3 linked regions of the Homo sapiens genome follow. The protein of the gene in region 1 interacts with the protein of each later gene in a biochemical or structural test. Each region holds a gene or a part of one and is shown on either strand. Other genes may lie near its edges.

The links.
Region 2: the proteins of HTATIP2 (region 1) and NCOA5 form a complex in vitro, tested with the Homo sapiens proteins (one study listed by BioGRID).
Region 3: the proteins of HTATIP2 (region 1) and ACSL4 form a complex in vitro, tested with the Homo sapiens proteins (one study listed by BioGRID).

The regions. Positions count from the first base shown.
Region 1 is NC_000011.10:20,379,564-20,385,027, reverse strand, and holds the end of HTATIP2 (protein HTATIP2), read right to left. Parts: intron 2,851-5,464; coding exon 2,789-2,850; intron 2,049-2,788; coding exon 1,823-2,048; 3' UTR 1,246-1,822; downstream 1-1,245. UniProt on the Homo sapiens protein: Represses translation by preventing reactivation of elongation factor eEF1A. May also inhibit nuclear import by competing with nuclear import substrates for binding to a subset of nuclear transport receptors.
Region 2 is NC_000020.11:46,079,963-46,084,410, forward strand, and holds part of NCOA5 (nuclear receptor coactivator 5), read right to left. Parts: intron 1-4,448. UniProt on the Homo sapiens protein: Nuclear receptor coregulator that can have both coactivator and corepressor functions.
Region 3 is NC_000023.11:109,681,258-109,685,705, forward strand, and holds part of ACSL4 (long-chain-fatty-acid--CoA ligase 4), read right to left. Parts: intron 4,188-4,448; exon of another isoform or gene 4,170-4,187; intron 2,410-4,169; exon of another isoform or gene 2,230-2,409; coding exon of another isoform or gene 2,107-2,229; coding exon 1,879-2,106; intron 1,640-1,878; coding exon 1,462-1,639; intron 119-1,461; coding exon 9-118; intron 1-8. UniProt on the Homo sapiens protein: Catalyzes the conversion of long-chain fatty acids to their active form acyl-CoA for both synthesis of cellular lipids, and degradation via beta-oxidation. Preferentially activates arachidonate and eicosapentaenoate as substrates.

The sequences.
Region 1 (5,464 bases):
GACAATAAAACAAGTTAACACCCATTGTGGAGGAGTGATTGGGCCAGAGTCTTGTTCCTTAGTAAGTTCATATCTCACCACAATGCAGAGCTCAAGAGAGGGCTGCTTTTCTCTCTACTCCAAAGGTGAACACAGACCCTTCCTCATTATCCCACATCACTACTGAGACCAGAATAACATGTTGAATGAAACCTGCTCGAAGGTTTGTGAGTAAGGAAATAATATAAGGAGAATAACTTAAAACAGGCCACTGGGTTTAGCTGCTTTCAGAGCCCAGAGGCCTCAACATATCCTCGGCCCATGCTTTTTCACCATCAAAACAACACACTTAGGCTCTTCAAAGTCCAACTCCCAGGGAACCCCACCTGGCAGAAGGAAGATATTTCATTTCCTTTTAAAGCTCACATTTCAATATCCCACCCTGCCCTAAAATATGCCTCTTTTTTGGGTGACTGACACTGGGAATGTCTTCTCCCTTCTAAGGATATACACTCCAAATTAAGGAGAATGGCCTTTATCCTCCAGTGTATACTGAAGCTTGAAATGTACTTGGCATACAGTAGGCCTTGGAAGAATTGACTGAGTCCCTCGAATCACTTTGCTTCCCTGGTGCAGACGTTAAGACAAGTTACATTAACATCTTTTGTTCTATGATGGAAATTAGCAATGTATGTTCCTCTTGGCTTTGACCCTTCCTTCTGCATCTTCCTTTGCCTTAATTTTTAAAGTGCAGCAGCATGAGCACTTTAAAGTTTGGTGGCATAGAATTTTACTGGCTATGTGAACATTTAGTAATTAATCACTAGAACAAAGGAGAAACCCAAATATTTCGATTTTGTTCATCCACAACATGTAGTAACAATCAACTGGAACTACCTGGAAATATACGGGAACAGAATGCTTTTGCAGGGTGCTTAAAAACACGATATATGGGATCTATGGGATCAGGCAGACCTGGGTTAGAATCCTGACTCTGCCATTTCTTTGCTTCAGTTCTTCAGATTTGGACTCTTGAGCAAGGCACTTAACCACAGTGAGCCTCATTTCCCCATCTAAGACATGAAGATCATGATAGTATCACTTTATAAGGATTGTTTATAAGAGGGTTAAAGCACAGATAACACATGTAAAGACTGGTACTTAGCAAGCATTTGGTAAATATTAGCTGCTATTATATCACCCCATAGGCTGAAATGCTGCATATCACACTACATGGGCATTTTCAAGCAATCTAAGAGGCACCCAGGAGTTGTCCATTCATCTTTATTCCTTTATTTAATCCTCCCCATGTATTATATAAGCTTAGGTATATAACTTCTATTACATAAAGAAGTAGTAAAGGCACAATGTTTACTTACACAATTACATGTAGTGAATTAGCACTTTTGTAACTCAGAGACATGAATGTCAACAATTTTAGAGCAGAGCTCATTTGCACGGTCATAAGGTTTTCATGGCTGCTGTGACTCTGCAGACAAGCATTTCAAAGCAGGCCCCCCAGCCAGTGGCATCGGAACCAGTGGCATCAGGGGAAGTATAAACAAAGAAAATTACAGATTATTGTGCCCACACCCCAGAAATTTTGATTCAAGTTTGAGATAGGGCTGACAAATCTTTATTTTTCCAAAGCTCCCTGAGTGATCTATATGTATAACCAGGCTCTGAACCACTGATGCAGAGCACCATCATTTCTTGATTGGAATGGATGCCTGAGGATAGTAAAACAACAAAGTTAAAACATGCTGACTTTTTTTAGACCCTGAAATTACCGATTTGGTGATGGGTGTTAAGGTTGACAATAAAAACCATTTCTCCAATGTGGTCATGGCTTGAGAGAGCCATGCGCTTTCCCCAGGTCATGGATGGCCTTGTTCTCCAGCAGTTCCATCTGCTTGTCTCTTGGTCTCACCACATTGTTCAGCATTGCTCTAACCACGGTCACCACAGGCACAGAATGCCCACTGGCCCAAGAGTCTGGTAAGGAGCCAAAGAACTTTCTAACCAGCCATTCACCTGGGCGAGATTCTTGCCTATCACATAACAGAACTCTAAAATAAAAAAAAAAAAAAAAGAAAGAAAAGCAGAGGAAGAGGTGGTAAATTGCACTGAGACCACAGTGGGCATTACGGACAAAACTGTATCCCCTCAATATTCTAATGTTGAAGCCCTAATCCCCAAGGTGTCTATATTTGAAGATAAGGCATTAAGGGAAGTAATTAAGTTTAATGAGGTCTTAAGGATGGAATAGGACTAGTGTGATGGGACTGGGGTCCTCATAAGAGGAAGAGACATCAGAGGTCTCTCTCTGTCTGCATACACTAAGAAGAAAGGCCATGTGAGGACACTGCCAGAAGGTGGTCTGTCTGCCAGCCAGGAAAAGAGGCCTCACCGGACACCAACCCTGAGGGCACCTTGATCTTGGACTTCCAATCTCCAGACTGCGTGAAAAAAAATTTCTGTTGTTTAAGACACCCAATCTGTGTGGTATTCTGTTATGGCAACCCAAGCAGACTAATACAGTAGACGTAAGGTTTTATTTGGCACATGAAGAGGATTTAAGAAGGCAGCAAATGCTGTCCAGGAAGTTCCAGACTATTCTGAAGCAGGCCCCACCATCTACCCTTTCTTTCTAAGCAAAAAGGTGTGTCCTTCAGAGAAGCAATCTACCTCTAGCCAATGTCTTTCATATCTTAGATATTTCAGCTGTCAGCCTTTCCAAATGAAAAATTAGTATCTAGGGATTAACCATCAGTGGCATACTCTCATTCAGTATAAATATTATACTTACCCAGGCCTAAATACAGAGTAACGATCAAATTTTAATTCTTCAACCTTGGCTTCTACTTCTCCCTATTAAGAAAAAACACATTTTCAGTATTTAATCGCGACCAGCTCACCTGTGTGAAGTTTAAGAGAGAATAATTTGTGGTTTTGAGATAATCTGCTTTTGCAGATCTCAATACTCAAAATATCCTTATCTAGAATTTTAGGTTCCAAGGAGTCTGGGAAATTAAGGAAGAGATCATTTAATCCTGATGTGTAGTCTTTCATTTAAAAGATCCACTAAATGAGTGAATGGCTGCATAGTCAGTCCTCTCACTTTATTGATATTAAAACAGATTCAGAGAGGGTAAGTCATACGTTAGTACAATCATAAAAGAATATCCTCTATTTAGTCCAGAATTCATGTTGCATGCTAGCAGACACTAACGTTTTTTTGGTTTATAGGTAGTTCCAGTGGGTCAGAAAACCATAGACCCACTATATTACTCACTTCTTAAACCTCACAAAATTTTAAGACAGATTACATCTAGATGATGCTTTAAATCTAATTTGTTAAATAAAGCATGCATTTTCATGGCAGGCATCTCTGGAAACAAAATGCCTGAGGAGCTCAGCCCACAGGCACTTCCAAAGGCCTGTGAACTACCACACGGTCATGCACGCCTCCTTCTTGGCCTGTGTGTACCACTCAATTGGCACTTAACCTGTCTCATCACAGACATTTAAGTAGCTATTTTTAAATATCTTTTTCTTTTTAAAAATTTTTTAATTTTAATTATTTATTTATTTATGTATTTTTTGTGTGTGATAGAGTCTCACCATGTCACCTAGGCTGAAGTGCAAGGGCATGATCTTGGCTCACTGCAACTTCCACCTCCCAGGTTCAAGCAATTCTCCTGCCTCGGCCTCCCAAGTAGCTGGGATTACAGGCATCCGCCATTATGCCTGGCTAATTTTTGTATTTTTAGTAGTGACGGGGTTGTCACCATGTTGACCAGGCTGGTCTCGAACTCCTGACCTCAAGTGATCCACCCGCCTCAGCCTCCCAAAGTGCTGGGATTACAGGCGAGAGCCACCGCGCTTGGCCATTCTTTTTTTTTTAATAGGTGGTTTTTAGTATATACACAGAACTCTGTAACCTTCATCACGATCTAAGTTTTAAAATATTTCATCACCCTGAAAAGAAATCCCATATCATTAGCAGTCACTCCTCGTACCCTACCCTCTGGGGACCTAGTCAACCACTAATGTACCTTCTATCTCTATAGATTTGCCTATTCTGGACATTTCATATAAATGAAATCATATAATTCGTGGTCTTTTGTGACTGTCTCCTCACACTTAGCATAATATTTTCAAGGTTCACCCATGTTGTAGTATGTATCATTTCTTTTTATAGCTGAATAATATTCTATTGCATGAATATATCACATTTTATTCATCTATTCATCAGTCGATGGCTATCTAGGTTGTTCCCACTCTTTGGCCATTATAAATAATGCTGCTATGAACAGTCATACACAAGATTTTATGTGTACACACATTTCTTAGCTTTTTTTTTTTTTTTTTTTTGAGATGGAGTCTCACTCTGTCGCCCAGGCTGGAGTGCAGTGGCGCAATCTCAGCTCACTGCAAGCTCCGCCTCCCGGGTTCATGCCGTTCTCCTGCCTCAGCCTCCCGAGCAGCTGGGACTACAGGCACCTGCCATCACGCCCGGCTAATTTTTTGTATTTTTAGTAGAGACGGGGTTTCACCGTGTTAGCCAGGATGGTCTCAATCTCCTGACCTCGTGATCCGCCCGCCTCGGCCTCCCAAAGCGCTGGGATTACAGGCGTGAGCCACCGCGCCCAGCCCATTTCTTAGCTTTTTAAAAGATTTGTTTTGTCTCTATTAGCAGTGTGCATAAAAGAGATACCATAGCAGGCTGAGACTGCTATCCTTAGAAAGGCCTGTTACAAGTTTGGCCCCTGGCTTGTGCTTGCAACCTTGGATTTTCGGTGTGTTCCCACCATTCCCTATCTGATAAGGGTCATGTACTATGCCTAAACTGTCTGTACAAACAATGTGGTTTATGCTGAAAACTTGCCTTTCTTCTGGAGGGCTGCAATTTGGCTAGGCCAATGTGCCTATGTAACTGGCTCCCATAAAAACCCTGCATTCCTAGGCTCAGATGAGTTTCTCTGGCAGAAAACGTTCATCGCTGGAGACATTAAGCACATCCTGTGCAAGCTCTATGGGGAGAGGCCTCTTGGAAGCTTGTACCTACTTTCCTCCAGACTTCACCCGACACACCTTTTCCCTTTGCTGATTTTGCTCTATATCCTTTCAATGCGATAAGTTGTAGCTGTGAGTATGACTATATGCTGAGTCCTATGAAACCTTCTAGTGAATTACCAAACTTGGGGGTGTCTTTGAGGATCCCTCAATACAAGCAGATTATAAACTCCTTGAGGTCAAGGATGATACCCAATAATAAAATGTCACATGTCTGGAAAGTATACCTTCACCCTGAATAGATGAGGAAACCAAAGCTTATAAACCCTGAGAACAGAGGACATGAGGCCCATCCAGTACTCTGGGCTCCACATCCTGACACGTCTCCCCACGGCACCAGCAGAATGCCCATAAAGCACATGATTGATCCAAGCCCCCAGAGCTGGCCCACCATGAATGAATGCAA
Region 2 (4,448 bases), on another chromosome or scaffold:
TCTTGTGTTGAATTCCACTGGATAGAATCTTCCAGAATAACATGCAGGAAAGAAAATTATTATTATTATTTTTAATAAACAAAGAATATGACCTGTTAACATCTACAGATAACCAAGAATAAGGACTGGCGTTTGGTATAGTAGGGTTAGGTAATAAAACACTCCTCCTAAGTTGTTTTCATTAGAGAAGGCTGGCGTATAGAACTAGATATGGGAGAAAAGTAGAATCACATAAGCTTAAAGAAAAGCAAATTTGTATAGCTAAAGCCTGCTTTGCTAAAAACCAAGAATACCTGCTTTACAAAAATTGAAGTGAATAATAAATACCATGTACTAAGAAATCTATGCCCCAAAATAATACCTGACAGTTTTCATATGACTTAAAGCTAAATAAATACATTACAAATTTCATACTTCAGATGAATGAAGAAATAAAAGTGCTTTCTGCTGCAGTAGAGTTTGTTCCCCTTTTTCCGTATTAAACAATTAATAGTGTATCTAATGACATCAAATGGTATTAAGTACTCACATAATTCGAGTGCTTTAAAATAATAATTATGTATTTTAAAAATCCCAACCAGATTCCTATCACATGAAAGACCACAGCAATAACAAGAAACTTAGAGGTCTGGTAGAGATTTTATGCTGCTATTTTGCCAACTTTTGAGTTCCTGATCAAATGAAGGTAATCTTCAATTCCATTTTAAATCAGAAGTCTCTAATTTGTCTAGAAAAATGGCTTCTGACAAAACTGAAAATAATATAAAGCTAAATAGTGAAGTATATCTTAAATTGATTCTTACCTTTTCAATTAAGCAGACACAAGATATAATCCTTCTATTTTAAAAAAAACCTGAAAATATTTTCTATGTAAGACTTGGCCAGTAATATCTGACCATAGCTTTGCTACTGCATGCAGTACTTTCACAATTTACAACTCTTAAAGTTTATAATGGTCTAAATTACAAATTATATAATGACAGGCCTTATAGGGAATATCTAGTTCTATTATACGTAATTGTGAAGAATACTAGTTCAGGTTTATGACTTACTGAGTCTGTTCACTTACTGTGTACCACTTTCTAATTATATAGGTTGGCTATGATTCAGAGAGAAATATAATATCTTTGAGTATTTTAAGTAGTTTTCAAGGTGTCTCTGGAATACACTGGGTGTGTATTAAGATAAAAAATATACATAACATAACTTCAGCAGGAGTTCATATATTATTAAATGGTCTTGTGAATAAAGGAAACTCACATCTAAACACTGACTAGACCTGGCAAACATTCAGGTTAAGAGTACAACACATATAGTATTACTTTAATTGGTAGGTTTCTATTACCAATAATTTGCTCTCTACATATGAAAAGGAATATTACACTGTATAATTATAGCCAGTTTCGTGAGCATCTACATACAGAACTGGAGAAATCACATGGTCATGTATACTATATCTTTGGAACAAAACCAGTTCTAGTTAGAATGAAGGACATAAATATTTTACTTTGAAGCTGGTGGAATCGTTTTGTAATTACTTAAAAGATTAAAGAATATTCAAGATTATATCTTTAAACCATTTTGATTGTAATTTGCCTCGTAGTATCTATTTTCATTGGGTAGTCCAAAGTATTTATATTTGACAGCATGGGATGTTTCTTCTGCAAAAACAAGAATTCTCAGATAATTGTCTCATTTTAGGGTTTAGTAAACTTTTAGTGTAGTATGTCAAGTATCTGTTTATTCATCTCTATTTAAGAGTTCCTTAAATTTCCATCTGGGCTGACGTATGGAGAAAATGAGACCTGGATTTTTTTTTTTTTCCTATCTAATAGAATTGCTCAGATTAGGGTAGGGCTGGGGAGTTTTCAGTGAGAGTTGTAAAAACACAACCACCAACATTACTGCCAATCCCCATACACCCAAAAAATCCTAACACATGTGCACATAGAACTTTTGGGAAATCCATGAGTTCAGAAATACAGAAGAATAAATAACTTTAAGGAACTAATCACGGAGAGCAAAGATTCAAGAAGTCAAGAAAAAACTTCCCTCATCCTATTTTTTTTGTCACAGAATTTGAAAACCTGTCAGTTGGAAGCAGAGGGTTCATTTAAAAAAGATTTTCTTTGAAAATGCAAATATTGAGAATGCTAAAGCACCAACTCACGGCTTTACATAAAAGGAAGAAACCAGAAAATAATCCAGAAAACATGTAGGAAATGACAGAACTGTTTTAAACCACAAAAGAATGGGGTGAAGAATTCCCAAAGAAAGACACAGTATCTAATCTATAGTTTTATTTTGTATTAAATAATCAGATTATTTTCTCCTAAATCCTTATAGAGAGATATAATCAACACCAAGCAAATAGAAATGGTGTTAATGTAAAGAAGGGAAAAAAAGGTAGAAAGACAATTTGGAGATCTTTCTGGACATCAGATGGGGAACTCTGGTTGGAGAAAAATTAATCAACAAGAGGGAAGTGGCAACTTGGGAATCTCTTCCAAGGAGAGGTCTAATGTCTCCTCTGAATAGAAAAGGGAAGAAACGGTACTTCTTTCCCCTTCTGCTATACTTTATTCTGGCCAACTGCCCTTAAGACCAAAAGTCATCTCTCAGTGTCTTCTCCACTTCAGTTTGGGTGATACTTCTATACTTTGTTAATTATACTAGCAATGTGAATGCCATTCAAAATCATCATAATCACCATGAAGTGCTTTATCTTGGCCTGAATATCTATAGTGTCCAAGTGGTGGTCTGAAAACAGTTAAAAGCACTTCTCAGTTAAGAATTTTTAGACAAGAAAAAGAGCTTTACATACAAGGAAAAGAACTGGAAAATAATCTAGAAAACATGCTGGAAATGGCAGAACCATTATAAACTACAAAAGGATGGGGTGAAGAACTCCCAAAATATACAATATCTAATCCACAATTTTATTTTAGACTAATATGCCAGACAGGGGTCACAAAATGGTCCTTGGATAATGCTATAAATAAAAATGCATGTTTCTTTCACTCACAGTACCAAAAACTACTTTGTTCTACTTATTTTTTAATTGTACAATCATAAAACAACTCTTTTCACCTTAAAACCAGATTTTATAGTTCATAAGCTACAGCCACAGAAAACAATGAGGACTAGGAATAACAAGAGCGGTGTCAAAGAAAATTTCCAGGAGGCCATTGCTTTGGACTGAGCTCCTGAACTAGGCCCAAAGACCAAACCAAATTCATGATGAAGTTCCACGCTATCAAGCCAAGACAAAGATCTTTTCCTGACGTTCTGCGAAATCAGGAGATAAATAATGGCCAAAACCACAAATAGGCCAGTTTTAGCCAGCATGAAAAGGAAGTCTGCACTGCTTTACCCTTCACAAGAAAAGTAACTCTGAAATGACCAATCCGCTTTTTGCTCCTTGTCTCTGCTTTCCTCAGCTCCCTTCTCTGTTTATAAAGCCAAACGCCTCTGCTCAGCTCATTGGAACACTTGTTCTATTTTATAGAATGAGGTGTTGCCCTATTCTAGAGTTGCAAATAAAAGACAATTAAGATCTCTAAACTAAGTGTGCTGTAATTTTGTCTTTTGACAGCCACATGAACTACAACACTTAGTGACAGTACCACCACTAGCTGTTCAAAGAACCCAGAAGCCTATACTGTTTTAATAACTGACTACAAATGACATAAAACTCTCTAAAAGGCTTAGTTGAAAACCAACTAACAATCAAGAATTACTAAAGTGGCATTACATGCTGATAAAGATAATGCCAGTTGGAAAACCATACTGACAAGACAGAGAATATCACACATTAAATCCCCCAAATTGGGAGGGGAAATGACAGGACTTCTCGCTAAACTATATTTATGAAGACAACTTTGATGATATATTGCAACATCAGGGATATTGTAATGAGTTATATTGTAACAAGTCAGGGATAAGAGAATGTTATGCTTGCTCTTTCTAAATCAACCCTTTAAGTTCACTTTGAATACTATACTTTCCCTATATATTTGATTATCTCCTTTATTCTCCAACTAAAATAATTATTACATCTTTAACTGTATTAGAATATTATTCCTGGGAACAGAAATGGGGGAAACAATAGTTTATACTTACAGAATGCTTATTTTGTTCCTGAGCCTGTGTACTAAGAACATTATGTGTATTATTTCATTCAATCCTTTTACAACTCTTGGAATTAAATACTGCTATAATTTCTACTTTGCAAATGAGAAAATTTGAAGTTTAGAGAAATTAAGTGACAGGCCACACAATTATCAGGAGGCAGAGCTGAGACTCAGACCCAGGTCTTTCTTACACCAAAGTACTTAAACATTATGCTATGCTGCCTCCAACGGAGTGGAAAGACATGCTTTCCATTTAGAATATTCTTGCTAGGACTCCCTGATCAAATACTGATGGAACCTGGAAAAGGTCCAGTC
Region 3 (4,448 bases), on another chromosome or scaffold:
ATATTTACCTTAAGTTTACTTTCCAGAAGTTCAACACTGGTAATCAGATAGGAAGCCTCAGATTCATTTAGCCCATGAACTACTGCTTCTTTGCCAAGTGTGGCATATAAAGTCACAACTACATAATAAAAATAAACACAAATATTAAGTAATAAACATCTATTAGAAATGGATATTATTGAAGTCAGTCTTTAATAATAGTTACACTTAGAGACACAAAGACATTGTATATTTTAATTTGATTTCATAGTCTCTGTTACCATCCTTCAACCTTGCTTCAAACTCCCTGGGAGCCCAAAGTTTTCCTTACAAATTCCCAGAACTCTCACTTCCTAAACCTGAAGAAACCCAGAAACACTCGCACTGCCACAGCTGATCAAAAATCTGTCAATTTAGATGCTCAAGGCCAATAGGTACTGGCTGAACTCTTAATTCAGGTCAGACTGGCCCAGCTAGGGCTTCTTCTTGATACACACTTTCATTGGCCATAGCCTCCAAAGAATGGATAAGTCCTTGAAAATCTTGAGGATCTTAAGTCATAAGATCAGCCACAGATAATGTTCTTACTCCTTCTAAGAAGCTGTTTTAGTGAGTCCAATGTCCAATGTGATTGGTGACCTCCACACCTTAATTAGAGAGATCAAGGAGATCTACTCCTTAGGAGCCACCAGAGATAACATAAACCAAGATCAGTTAGAATCAAAGGACATCTGCTAAACTTAGAAAGAACTGAAAATTCAGCTCTAGATTGGTAACCAGAAACAATGTGGTTAAAAATAGCCACTTTCACAAGCTGTTCATCGTTGAAAGTGGGTAATGGGTACATAGGGGATCATTTTCATATTATCTATTTTTTGTTTGAAATTTAAGCTCTATAATCCTAACTTACAGTGTTATATTTCATTCAACAAACAACAGAGTACTTAGTATGTGACAATACATTGTTTATTTCTTAAACAATGGCAACAACAAATGCTTGAGTATTAGAAATATACTCAATTTTACTTTCTAACATATCTAATGCCAATTCCAGCTGTCACATGCATATTTCACACGTAAAATAGAATAAGTCAAATAAGAGGTCTCAAAGTGAAGCAATGAATTTGAATTATCCTGAGAAATGGTTTTTTGTTCTTTTAATCATTACTCTTTGTATATCACCCCCCCAAAATACCCCCAAACTCCAACTCTTTCAGTTACAATTCATTTCCAATTGGAAAATAAAAGTGTAAATCACATCCCTTAAAGCTGCCAATTCCCATATTAGTTCTTACAAGTTACCATACTTAACAGGAGTCATCGGATATCTTTTAGCCACAATATTACATGCCGTATTATGGACATAATTAATGTGTAAAATGGCTAAACAACACCTACTGTGAAAACAAGAGCATCTCAAAACAATTCTCACATGCAAGCAAAGACCCTCCTCTCCCCCCTCCAAAAACACAAGGCACTTACGAGGAAAGTTGTACTTAAAGCAGGTCTGTGCTGCAATCATCCATTCGGCCCTGGTCTCACAGAAGATGGCAATGGTGTTCTTTGGTTTTAGTCCCAGTGCAGTGAGTCCACTACCAAAGTTATTCACTCTGCGATTCACTTCAAGATAGTTCATCCATTTATAATTCCCAAGAATTAACTGTTAAAGTGATACATTCTCTAATATTAGTATATTCAAACAAGCAATTAAAATACTATCCAAAGCATAAAACTCTAAAAATGCTCTTAAATGAACATACAGAAGCTATGAGCGGCTTCTGAGTAGTTTTACACAGCACTATAATAGAATGCCAGCATACTTAAAACGCACTCGATTTATGATAAAACAAATGTGTCTTCCTCTTTAAAACATAAATGAAAAGCACCAAAATACTTTACCTTCTTAAAAACTTTTCCATTTGGCTGCATTTCATTTTCTTCACTTAGGATTTCCCTGGTCCCAAGGCTGTCCTTCTTCCCAAACTTGGATACAGCATGGTCAAATAATTTATCCAGAGTATCTGCTCCAGGGATGTCTATTACAGCTAGTGAGTCGAAGTGTGTGACAGAGCGATATGGACTTCCAGGTTTGTCTGAAGTGGGCTTAGCTTTTATTCTCTTTGCCATAGCGTTTTTCTTCTTGGCATTGGTAAGAAAATACCATGGAATAAATATAAGGGCACTGTATATTGTTATTAACAAGTGGACAGGCAGCAAAATAATGGTGAGCACATTTAGCTTAAGTTTCATAGTGGAAAGGCTTCTAAAATGGTGCTTATTTCTTGTTATTCTTTGGCTTTTGAAAGCCTTATTGTGCTGAAGAAGGCAATAATAGAAGCAGCAGTAAGAATAGCAGTACAGCCAAGGCAGTTCAATCTTAGTGATACAGATAAAAGTTAGTAATCTTTGGAAGCCGACAATAAAGTACGCCTGTAGGTGATGACAATGAACCAAGCAGAGAGCAGGAAAAATAAAAACAAAAAACAAAAAACAAAAACAAAAGAATATTAACAAGTTGATAGCACAATTGATTTAAATACTCAGGTCTTTATTAGTTTACACAATTAATTACAGAAAGCTGAAATAACTGGTCTGAAAGGCTGGCATTTTCCATTTGTAATCATTATTGACGTAAATGTCTTTGAGCACATCAACTTCTGAATTTATTTTTTTCTAGGTTTCTAGGTGTACTGGTACTCTGCATATCATTCTGTGAGTTGAATAACAACCTTAATGCTTACACAAATGCATGAATATGATATTTAAGTTTGTCAAAACTTTGGTAGAATAGGGTATGCCAATAATAAGATTTCTCTTAAACATGTGCATGTAAACTAGACATCTTTAAATAGTGTTAGGTTTATATCCAAAGGGGGGGGTGGGGCAGAAACTATCAACTTAGATTTATTTCTCAAAGGTCAACCCAGAAACCTTATTCTGAGTTCTTCATTAAGGTAAATTTCTCAGGTAATGCTATTTACTATCTACTATTTCCCACATGGGAGCAATACAATTGTAAAATCATTTCCTACATGTCCACTTTGTGCTCAAAACTGCACCAGTTGCCTAGGAGTGGTAATACAAGTCTGAAGTAGTATTAATTCCTGGCCCTTGGCCATTATAAGTTAACACTTATGAGTCAACTATCACACAAGATAGATCCAGTATTTTTGCAACTGTTTGGGGGAACGGGGACAGGGGGTGCAATTAAACCATCTCTTCTAATAAACACTACTGGAAACTGCCCATATATAACACTAAAGTGGAGTTGCTCTGGCCAAAACAGGGTTTGGGGATGTCCAGAGTCCTGCCCCAGAATTCCCGGAATCCCAACTCCCAAGGTGACCACTAAAGCATTTCCACTGAAAAGCCTTGTGGTAATACATAACTAATACATAACTACCATGTGCAGTGTAGGCAGTAGTATAAGCAATAAATGCAAAAGGAGTTCAGAGGAAGTGCAAAATGGCCAAGAGTAACTAGGAGAGGCTTTGTGGAGATTAGATTTAAGCTGGACCTTATGTTGGGCATCTAGAAATGAAAGAGGAATGGAAGGTATTCCAGGCTCAGGGACCATATGAAAAAAGATACGAAGGTGGGAATGAAAGGACTTTGGGAGAATAGGAAGTACCAATAGCAAGGACACTAGTCTGACTGGGGCACAGCATACACTAAATACGCTAAATACGCTTGACTAAATACGCTACGGTAGTTACAAAATCTAACAAATCAGGCAAAGTAATTTTGATTGGATTATGTGGAAAGCTGGGGGCTGCTGCAGGTTAGAAAAACAGTGCCATTGGAAAGAAACCGCAGAAACAGGCTCAAGAATAGTAATATTTCTTTTCTTTCTTTTTTTTTTTTTTTTTTTTTTGAGACAAGGTCTCACTTTGTCACACGGGCCAGAGTGCAGTGGCATGATCTCAGCTCACTGCAACCTCTGCCTCCCGGACTCAAAAGATCCTCCCACCTCAGCCTCCCGAGTAGCTGGGAACACAGATGTGCATCACCATGCCTGGCTAGTTTTTTTCCATTTTTTGTAGAGACGGGGTTTTGCCATTGTTGCTCAGGCTGTTCTCAAAATCCTGGACTCAAGCTATCTGCCCTCAATGGCCTCCCAAAGTGCTGGGATTACAGGCGGGGGCCACCACACCCGGCCCAAGAATAGGAACATTTTTTAAGGAGCTTACCTTCAACTGAGAAAGCTACTTCGGTGAGTTGTAGCATATTTCAACCAGAAAAATCAAAATATTAGTTCACTTTGAAGAGACAAACTGAAGCCCATCCTTCTGCAACTTTTGTAGAAACAGACTGACAGACTTAATTCAATTGACCCCAGGCTAGTTGATTGTTTTTATACCATCTAATATAAAATGGTAGCTTAATCCTGCCTGTGCCTTTGTTCATGTAATTTAGTTGAGTACAGTGAAATGAGAAAGAAACTGGAAGTCACTGGGTGTCAATCCTCA